Linked DNA regions of Homo sapiens: region 2 is linked to region 1. The links come from fine-mapping of genetic effects on plasma protein levels. A gene starts in region 1. The other region holds a variant in brackets. All regions are shown on one strand. Distances are from middle to middle. Region 1 holds the start of GPNMB (glycoprotein nmb). Region 2 overlaps IGF2BP3 (insulin like growth factor 2 mRNA binding protein 3).

Evidence for each region. A credible set is the group of variants that fine-mapping cannot tell apart. PIP is the chance, under the fine-mapping model, that this variant and not a neighbour inherited with it causes the effect. Protein levels are from antibody-based Olink assays in UK Biobank. Linkage for the fine-mapping came from a reference panel and not from the study's own genotypes, which makes the PIPs less certain.
Region 2: its variant is the best candidate, but not a certain one, in a credible set for the plasma level of the GPNMB protein (UK Biobank, PIP 0.56).

Annotation. Positions count from the first base shown.
Region 1 is chr7:23,243,938-23,249,316 of GRCh38, forward strand. GPNMB (glycoprotein nmb) reads left to right here and starts at 2,838. Exons shown (of 11, transcript NM_002510.3): 1 at 2,838-2,990. The coding sequence starts at 2,921. RefSeq lists an enhancer at 4,290-4,409.
Region 2 is chr7:23,362,355-23,367,733 of GRCh38, forward strand. The region is part of intron 3 of IGF2BP3 (insulin like growth factor 2 mRNA binding protein 3); the gene reads right to left. Among named protein-coding and RNA genes, the nearest start is that of SNORD65C, 31 kb to the right of the region's middle. The variant G/C (reference allele first, on the strand shown) is at 2,744.

The DNA.
Region 1 (5,379 bases):
ACTCCGCCTCAAAAAAAAAAAAAAAAAAAAAAAAAAAAGTTGACTATTCTTTGCTTTCCTCCACATCATTTCCGAACAGAGTAATTGTATCTGTAATTCCAGATAATTGAGATGTTTCCCTTTTCATTTCTCAATTGCCTTAAGGCGAGTTGATTAGCAACCTTCATCCCCCCAGCCATATAATATATTTACCAGACCTGGCAATTAGGATCTGAACGGAACAATTTTTCTTTCTTTTCTTTTTTCTTTTCTTTTCTTTTCTTGTCTTTTCTTTCTTTCTTTCTTTCTTTCTTTCTTTCTTTCTTTCTTTCTTTCTTTCTCTTTCTTTCTTTCCTTTCTTTCTCTTTCTTTCCTTCCTTCTTTCTTTCTTTTCTTTCTTTTTCTTTCTTTCTTTCTTAAGAGATGAAGTCTCACTACATTGCCCAGGCTGGACTCAAACTCCTGGGCTTAAGCAATCTTCCCGCTTCAGCCTCTGAAGTCACTGGGACTTCAGGTACACATCAGTACACCAGCTCAAAAAATTATTTCAACAAAATATTTCAAACTTTCTTTACAGTATAATTTTATCTTTCCAAAACAAACAAACAGGCTTGAGAATATTCTTTACCCAAAATGGCCCTGTCTCTGAGTCCTACATAGAGTTAACTACTTTATATATTATCAACCATTGATTATCAAGAAACAGATTATCCAACTTGTAGTTCTTTGGAATGAAGATCTTTCTCTTGTTCTCTTATTCACCTCTGTCCAGCTGCCTACATTTTGACTCTTGTCCTATCAGTGCCTCTTCTCTTTGATGGTGCAGGGAAGGAAAAAAGACATAAAAGTTGATTTGATCATTGTGTCTCCCTAAACAAAACGAAGGTTTTGTTACAGAAGAATTTAACACTTCCAATTTATTTAGAGACGGGGTGGCTAATCTGGCTAGAAATATGAGCCAGAACTGTGTCTGCAACAAAGGACAAAAATATCTTTAAAAATGTTAATAGTAGCTTTTCCTTAAATTGAAAAGGTGTTTTTTTTTAATTGTAAAAGTTATGTGTTTGTCATAAAAAGCAAATAGTGCTGTAGGCAGCTGAGGTGGGAAGATCACTTGAGGCCAGGAGTTCAAGACCAGCCTGGGCAGCATAGTGAGATTTTTGTCTCTACAAAAAATAAAAAGCAAATAAAAAATTAGCCGAGTGTGGTGGTGTGTGCCTGTAGTCCTACCTACTTGGAAGGCTGAGGTGGGAGGATCACTTGAGCCTAGGAGTTCAAGGCTGCAATGAGCTATAATCATGCCACTGCACTCCGGCCTGGGCAACAGAGTGAGAGCCTGTCTCTAAAAAAAAAAAAAAAAAAAGTTTTTAAGTAATTTAAAAAGCAAATAACTATATACATTATTCGCTTTACATTACATGAAACTAATAAGTATTTCCATTATTCCTTTATTCATCAATATTTGAAAATTGTTTCAGTCATGAATAATGTGTTCCTTTCGTTGTTTTCCCCTTCATATTTGCTGCAAAGGCTGTAAAAGGCACTCTACAGAGTTGTTTGCCGCCTTAGGGATGGAAGTCAGCCACTCCTGCTGTATGGATTTTAGTTTCATAGGCTATTTCCATTCCTCCTTGACACACTGAACCATAAATCAATACCCCAAGTTTTACCCTCACCTGCAACCAAGGTTTCTACTGCACTGAAAATGGCCATGTGAATGTGAGTTTGAGAAAGGTCACATATGGTAAAGTTTTCATGTTGCCACATTTTCTGCATACTCTGTAACCAGGAATGATTTGACTGTATAAATTTATCTTACAGACACACTTGTTTGTACATTTAATGCCTGCTTTCTATAATATGAAAAAATACACAGAACGTTTTATGCAATTGGCTCTGAGTAATGCAACACATAAATGCTTTGAGAGCAGTTACCAAAAATTATGCAGGTTATTACAAAAGTTATATGGAATTGCACAGATATTCTAAATGTGCTTTTGAGTAAATTTCTCAGCTACCAGAGGCCTGGGCAGCTGTTTCCAGCACATCCTGGCACAACATTCATGTTATCATCCACTTATGTATTCCACAATTTCAAATGATTGATAAGACACCTCCCCCATCTTTGCTTCCTCTTGGAGGAAAAAAATATACAAGCAATCACGAGCACAGGAGCAGGTGGACAACTACATCTTAGGAAAGGGTGCGTAACTGTGAACTCTAAACGTGAGCTGGGTGCCTGATGCAGTATAGGAACCACAGTAAGTCGATAATCAGTGAGGCTGGAGGATTGAAATTTTATTTGGTAAAGAATATTGAGCCAGGCGCGGTGGCTCATGCCTGTAATCCCAGCACTTTGGGAAGCCGAGGCGGGCAGATCACAAGGTCAGGAGATCGAGACCAGCCTGGCCAACATAGTGAAACCTGCCTCTACTAAAAATACAAAAAATTAGCCGGGCATGGTGGCGGGCACCTGTAATTCCAGCTACTCAGGAGGCTGAGGCAGGAGAATGGCTTGAACCTGGGAGGTGGAAGTTGCAGTGAGCTGAGATCGTGCCATTGCACTCCAGCCTGGGAGACAGTGTGAGACTCCATCTCAAAAAAAAAAAATGAATATTGAAATAGAGTCTATAGGAAAAAAACTCCTTGAATCTAGTAAATGTGGAATCACAAAATTGAAATAATGTGCATCTGAAAAGTGAATAAATAGATGCCAAGAAGGAGTGAGTCATAAGCACATGAGTTGTAAGAGGTTGAACTTGAGAGACCAGATCAGGCAGTGCCGCTTAATACCATCACATGATCCTCCCCGAGGCCCTGTATTTAATTAAAATAGAGAGGGAGGCACCACAGATGCCAGAAGAACACTGTTGCTCTTGGTGGACGGGCCCAGAGGAATTCAGAGTTAAACCTTGAGTGCCTGCGTCCGTGAGAATTCAGCATGGAATGTCTCTACTATTTCCTGGGATTTCTGCTCCTGGCTGCAAGATTGCCACTTGATGCCGCCAAACGTGAGTAACCCTTAATTTCTATGTTTAACCCATTCTCTGGCCATTGGCTGAAATGATGGCTAATAATATCCTCTGAACTAGAGGTTGGACTGAAGTTCTTCAGGAAGCTTTCATCTCTGGCTCACTCATCTCTTCTTCTGCAAACTGTTGGGAAGGCTGAAACTACAGCAAAATGCCTCCAGCTCCATTCTTTGCTTTCGGCTCATGGAAAGTAAAAACTATGCTGCCCTTCTCTTGTGAAGCTTCTTTTCCATTGCAATTGCAACCCATTCTTGCCAGACAGTGGTTGGGGGAGGGTTGGACAGCCTCCGGCCACAGAACAAAGCAACTCCACCAACTAAACTATGTCCAGCTTCCATCCAAAAGGGTGGAGACCTCACATGAAATGGGGTCTCCAATCTGGAGGCAAATTTACGAATCTCCCCAGCCCTGAAGCTATTGCTCCTCCTGCGGGGCTTCCTCACAGACCTGCAGGAGCTTGCTGGGAGAGGAGCTGAAGCCCAGGCTCTCTACCCTGGTCAGGCAGGAGAGGCCAGGGCATTTTTAACAATACTGATACCCACGCAATGAAACCGGAATCTTTGGGAGTGGGGTCAGAGGATCCTTGTTTTAAAAGTTCCTCTTGGGATCTGCCTATGCAGCCAGGGTCCAGACCACTGAAGCAGTGTGCAGATTCGCGAGAGGAAGAGAGCTGAGCCGCTGTAACCCTGGGCCTGGGATTGCGGGGACGGGACGGGTGGGAAGCGGCCAAAGGCGCAGCGGCTTCTGGTCAGAGCCGCAGAGGCCTGAGACGTGGGCCGCGCCCCGGCCCAGGAGACCCCGCGGCCGCGCCCTAACCCTCAGTCTCCCGACTGCGACTGCGACCCGGGAAAACGCCTACGTTTTTGGAAAGGAAGTCCCATCACAGGGAGCTGACCCGGTGTCAGCGCGCAGCACGTTCCCGGCCCGCAGTGCGCCGCGCGTCCTCCTAGCAGCCCGCGGAGCCCGGCACTGTGATGGTCCCGCTTCCCACACGAGGCCACGGGCCACAGAGTGGGCAAGGAACTCGCCCCAAGCCACACAGCGGGTAAGTTGAGGAGGCAGCCTTCCATCCCGACCTCTGTCCTTCCTGCCCGGGTTTGGGGTTGGACAGGCTCGGGCTCCCCGCCAGCCTAGGGGCTGGGTCTCCAGTGGCTTTGCTCCATTTCCTCATTTCCTTCAAAACGAGGAGTTTTCGTTTCCTCATTTGCAAAACTGGGTAATTGTGTTCTTGTGAGATCAGCTGCTTGGCGTGAGAGACGTGCATGGTGGGGATTGTTCCTACGGAGGCAGACCTGCACCCACCCTCAGGATACCTCCCAGGACAGGCTACTTTAAAGACGAAGGAACACAGAATAGACCCGATGGGGGACACCTGCTATTATTCCACCCTCTTTCACCAGTCCACTTCGCTCTGCTCAATAAAACAGATTAGCAGGAGGCCGAATCAGCGCTGTCAGCTCGAGAGGAGTCCTCAGCCTCTTGGGCAGTGTAACAAAACCCAGCCATTCACCAGGTTCACCTTGCTCTGGACTAAATATTCTGCCCAGAAAAAAATAAGGGCAGGCAGAATGTAGCAGTGTATCAAGCACTAAAGATTTCCTACCATTTTCCATTCGTAGCCCTGAAGGAAGGAGAAAGTGTGGACAAGGTAGGTGGAGGCAGCCCAGCCACCACCTCTCTGCTGGTGGACACAGCAAGGATGCCAAAGTGTGGAGGCAGAGTCGGCTGCAGCACTGGGTGCGACCTCAAATTTACCTTCACATTGATTGCCCCCAAAACCCACCCCCACAGGCTTTTATTTTTCTTTTAAAATCTGCTTACTATTGGGTTTTTTTTTTTTTAATCAATTTTTTTAGAGACAGGGTCTTACTCTCACCCAGGCTGGAGTGCAGTGGTGTGATCACAGCTCACTGCAGCCTCCAACTCCTGGGCTAAAGGTGATCTTCCACCTCAGCCTCCTGAGTAGCTGGGACCACAGGCACGTGCCACCACACCCAGATAATTTTTGTATTTTTTGTAGAAATGGGATCTTACTACATTGCCCAGGCTGGCCTCAAACTTCTGGGCTCAGTCCTCCCTTGGCCTCCCAGAATGCTAGGACTACAGGCATGAGCCACCTTATCCGGATGGGTTTATTTTATTTTTTAAATTTTTGTAGAGACAGGGTTTTGCCATGTTGCCCAGGCTGGTCTGGAACTCCTGGGCTCAGGCAATCGCCCACCCTCAGCCTTCCAAAGTGTTGGGATTACAGGCATGAGCCATTGCATCCGGCCTTTATTTTTAAATTCAACTTTTTATTGTGAGGTATTTATAGATTCACATACTGTTGTAAGAAATAATACAGAGAGATCCCCATGCACCCTTTACC
Region 2 (5,379 bases), 120 kb after region 1:
GATTGCTCAAGGCAGGCTAGAAAAATGAAGACAGCACAGTGCATACTCTACCTGGAGTGGAATTTAAAGCCCAACATAAATACATAGACAGCAAAAGTGTGAAATGAAGCAAACATTTCTAAGTCTACACGGGGTTGGGAAATGTACAATTTGAAGCTGTCTATGTTTTTACCATCTTTCCTGTAGCTGTATTATTATACTATGCATGTTATCCAAATGGAGAGGCTGTTAGAACAGTAACTGTAAGTTTATTATAATATCAACTGCAGATGTACGTCTCATCAATATAAACCAAATTCAGGTGTCCTTAGCTTCTAAGAGCTATAGCAAAACAAAGTAAGTTTCTGTAAATTATAGCAAATTACTTACTCATCAGTTTAACTACAAATTTTCTTATTTATTTATTTATTTATTTATGAGACAGGGTCTTGCTATGTCACCCAGGCTGGAGTGCAGTGGCATGATCACAGCTCACTGCAGCCTCAACCTTCTGAGTTTAAGTGATCTTCTCACCTCAGCCATCCAAGCAGCTGGCACTACAGGTGCACGCCGCCACCCTCAGCTAATTTTTAAAATTTTTTGTAGAGATGAGGTCTTACTACGTTGCCCAGGCTGGTCTCAAACTCCTGAGCTCAAGGGATCCTCCTGCCCTGGCCTCCCAAAGTGCCAGGATTACAGACGTGAGCCACTTAGCCCTAGCCTAACTGCAAAGTTAAAAGGGCGGTTCCTTGAAAATGTTTTTCAGGTGCCAGGAAATAGAAAACAAATTTTATGGTAATTTACTACTAAACTTAAGCAATTTCTTCTAAAGGAAGGTTTATCTTATGTGGTATATTTTAGGCTTTTGTCTACTGTTTCCAGTTTGAAACATATAACAAGGTTTGTCTGGGGTGAGCTTCTGTTTTTAGTTTTGGGACAGGGTCTCACTGTCACCTATGCTGGAGTGCAGTGGCACGACCATAGATCACTGTAGCCTCAACCACTGGGCTCAAGCAACCCTCCCACCCCAGCTTTCTGAGTAGCTGGCACTACAGGTGCATGCCACCACACCTGGCTAATTTTTAAGTTTTTCGTAGAGATGAGGGTCTCGGTATGTTGCCCAGGCTGGTCTCAAACTCCCAGATTCAAGGGATCATCCCAGCTGGGCCTCCCCAAGTGCTGAGATTACAGGCGTGACCCAGCACCTGGCCTGGTTTTTCTTTTAAATAAGGTTAATACCTATTTATGAGTGAAATGCCCTTTATTTTTATTTGGTAAATTTCCTTTGCATGAGGTAAATTTAATTTTTATTTGGTAAATTTCTTTTGCATGAGGTATACACACAGAAGCACATTAATCTTTGTCTCTGATTATAGCTATTCTTAAATCACAAAAAGACATTCAAATATTTCATGAGTGAAGTGAATACTTCATAGGAGGAAATCCTGGTATATCTTATAGGAAGAGTACTCTGTAAAAGTGCTTGTCTGTTTTATAGGTGAATTTGCCATGTGATGTTGATCACAGACACATTTTATAAACGCCAAAAATTAAGAAACCTCTCACGTTGCCATTCAAAGATAAAATATACAACACATAATTCCTTAAATTAAAAACAAGGGTGGCCGGGCACAGTGGCTCATGCCTGTAATCCCAGCACTTTGGGAAGCCATGGCGGGTGTATCACCTGAGGTCAGGAGTTCGAGACCAGCCTGGCCAACATGGCAAAACCTTGTCTCTATTAAAAATACAAAAATATTCGCAGGGCGCGGTGGCTCACGCCTGTAATCCCAGCACTTTGGGAGGCCGAGGCAGGTGGATCACGAGGTGAGGAGATCGAGAGCAGCCTCATCAACATGGTGAAGCCCCGTCTCTACTAAAAATAGAAAAATTAGTTGGGCACGGTGGTGCGCGCTTGTAGTCCCAGCTACTCAGGAGGCTGAGGCAGGAGAACTGCTTGAACCCAGGAGGCGGAGGTTGCAGTGGGCTGAGATCGTGCCACTGCAGTCTAGCCTGGGCAACAGAGCAAGACTCCATCTAAAAAAAAAAAGAAAAAACAACAAAATTAGCTGGGAGTGGTGGCGGGTGCCTGTAATACCAGCTACTTGGGAGGCCGAGGCAAGAGAATTACTTGAACCTGGGAGGTGGAGATTGCAGTGAGCTGAGAGCACGCCACTGCATTCCAGCCTGGGAAACAGAGCGAGACTTTGTGTCAAAAAAAAAAAAAAAAAAAAAAAAGCGGGAGGTTGGGGGGTGGGGGGTGGCGGTGCAGTGGGCAACCTACTTATTTTCTAAACAAAAATGAAATTTTTTCAATACGAAAAATGTTTTACTTCATACTTAAGTCAGAATTCTAACAAATTCATTCCACCTTCAGTAATGAAGTCAGGAGGAAAAGTATGTCTACCATTAAAATTTAGCTTTTAAATGAAAGCCACACTAATAATAATAGAGCTTTACAGCAACTTGGATGGAGGTGGGGGTAGCGGAGGGGTTCAGGGACTAGGAGGTAGTTGACAGTTTAATATGTTATTTAAAATATAGCTTTTAGGACCAGACACGGTGGCTCACTCCTGTAATCCAGCACTTTGGGAGGCCGAGGCAGGTGGATCACTAGAGGTCAGGAGTTTGAGACCAGCCTGGCCAACATGGTGAAACCCCATACCTACTAAACATACAAACATTAGCCTGCAGTGGTGGCGCATGCCTGTAATCCCAGCTACCCAGGAGGCTGAGGCAGGAGAATTGCTTGAACCTGGGAGGT[G/C]GAGGTGGCAGTGAGCAGAGATTGCACCACTGCACTCCAGCCTGGGCAAAAGAGCAAGATTCTGTCTCAAAATAAAATTTAGTTTTTAAATGAAAGCCACACTGATAGTAGAGCTTTATAGCAACTTGGATGGAGGCAGGGGTAGAGGAGGGGTTCAGGGAGTAGGAAGTAATTGCCAATTTAATAAGTTTAATTAAATAAACATCCTTCTTAATTCTTCTGAAAAGCAATTTGTTCAGTAATTAAGTATATTAGTCTCCACACAGATTACCTTATGCCACCTTAACTTTTATTACTCTTAGAGATAACACTACAAAAGTTAAACACCTGTGATCTATAAACAATACCGACTAAACCTACAATAATGTCAAGGCAACAAATGTTCTTCAAAAGCTACAGTGCCAAAGTGATAAATATTTATATACACACACATACAAATGATACAGGTAAATTTTTTAACTTAAAAAAAATCGGGGGACAATCCTTTCATGCTCTTCCTTTCCAAGTTAGGCCTGGTAGAATGGCTTCTACGAAGAAGGGTTGTGACAAGAAGGGCCGCTCTGCCACCAACAAGGTGATGACCTGAGAATGCATCATCATTTACAAGGGTATCCATGGAGTGGGCTTCAAGAAGACTGCCCCTGGGCATTCAAAGAGATCTGGAAATTTGTTATGAAGGAGATGTGTTCACTGACATGAGGCTCAACAAAGTTGTCTGGGCCAAAGGAATAAGGAACGTCCTATACCACAATCTGTGAACAGCTGTCCAGGAAATGTAATGAAAATGAAGATTCACCAAACGAGCTCCATATTTTGATTACCTATGTACCTGTTACCACTTTCAAAAATCTATAGTCAGTCAATGAGGATGAGAACTAGCCACCGATCATCAAATATGTTAAAGTTATAAAACCACACACACACACAAGTAGAAATATACATTAAAATTTTCACTGCATATATTCAAAACAAAATTGCCTGTATAGTTAAATATTCTATTCCTAAGAATAGATAAATGCTATTGGTTGTCAACTTCCGTGTAAATCTTTTTTTTTTTTTAGACAGAGTCTCACTCTATCACCCAGGCTGGAGTACAATGGTGCAATCTTGGCTCACTGCAACGTCTGCCTCCCAGGTTCAAGCGATTCTCCTGCCTCAGCCTCCCAAGTAGCTGGGATTACAGGCACACACCACTACACCCAGCTAATTTTCGTATTTTTAGTAGAGACGGGGTTTCACCATGTTGCCCAGGCTGGTCTCGAACTCCTGACCTCAAGTGATCCACCCACCTTGGTCTCCCATAGTGATGGGATTACAGGTGTGAGCCACCACACCTGGCCATGTAAAGTCTTTAGAAAGATAACTAGAAACTACAATCCTGTGCACTTTTTTTAAATGGTGAGTTTTATTGTCTGTGAATAATACTTCAACAAGCATGGCTTTAAAACAAAGTAAAAAAGAAAAAAAAAAAAAAACCACAAGCAAAAAAACCCCTCTAATCCTTAGAAGAAATAGGTGCAGAATCAATCTTGGTACCTAGCTGTGGAAAAAATTTAACAACACAACTTAGGAGATTTTACATAGCCCCATAGATGGATTTCAGTGGATCTTTGATGTCTTACTCAAAGTTTCATGTACAAGGCTTGGAAGTAATGACAACAGAATAGGGAAAGGGCTGTCAATAGCCTAATAAGATTCCCAAATCTCAAAAGGATTTCCAACCCCCAAATGACTTGAACTGTACTATAGTAATCCCATCAATCTTAAGGCAGGCCATTATTTGAATATGCTCTTTTATATCAAGGCCTATCAAATGGTATCATGCCACTCCAGCCCACTGAACTCTCAAAGAATAAATACAACTTACACTTGGTAAGTTCTCACATTTTGCTTTTTTTTTTTTTTTTTTTTTAAAGACAGAGTCTTACTGGAGTGCAGTGACATGATCTTGGCTCACTGCAACCTCCGCCTCCCAGGCTCAAGCCATTCTTGTGCCTCAGCTTCCTGAGTAGCTGGGATTACATGCATGTGCCACCACGCCTGGCTACTTTTTGTATTATAGTAGAGACAAAGTTTTGCCATGTTGGCCAGGCTAGTCCCGAATTCCTGAGCTCAAGTGATCTGCCTGCCTCAGCCTTCCCAAATGCTGGGATTATAAGTGTGAGCCACAGTGTCCGGCCGCATTTTGCTTAATTCTGCATTAAACAGGAAGATAAGACAGTGTTCCTGTTACCTGTCACATAAGCTACTTATGCACCTGTTTTTGTCTCCTAGATTCTTGTCCCCTCTCAGTACTGCTAATCATTCTATGTCAGCCACAAATACTTCTTTTAAACAGTCTTAAAGGCCAAAAAAAAAACCACGAAAAAAAACAAAAAGCTTTCCACTCTATATTTCCAACACTTTCACAAGTTCCCATACCTAAATAAAATCTTAAACCAGAAAGGAAACATTTCTCTATGCTTAGGTAAGTTTAAATTCCAACGACAGGGGAGGGAGGAAGGGGTATAAATGCAAAGTAAAGCCTCATAGAAAATGTCTTTCTAGAATTCCCCCGTTATGTATTTAGGACGTGAAACCCTCAAATGTTCAGCCTTTTTAAAAAAAAAAAGTTCATCCACGGCTGGGCGCGGTGG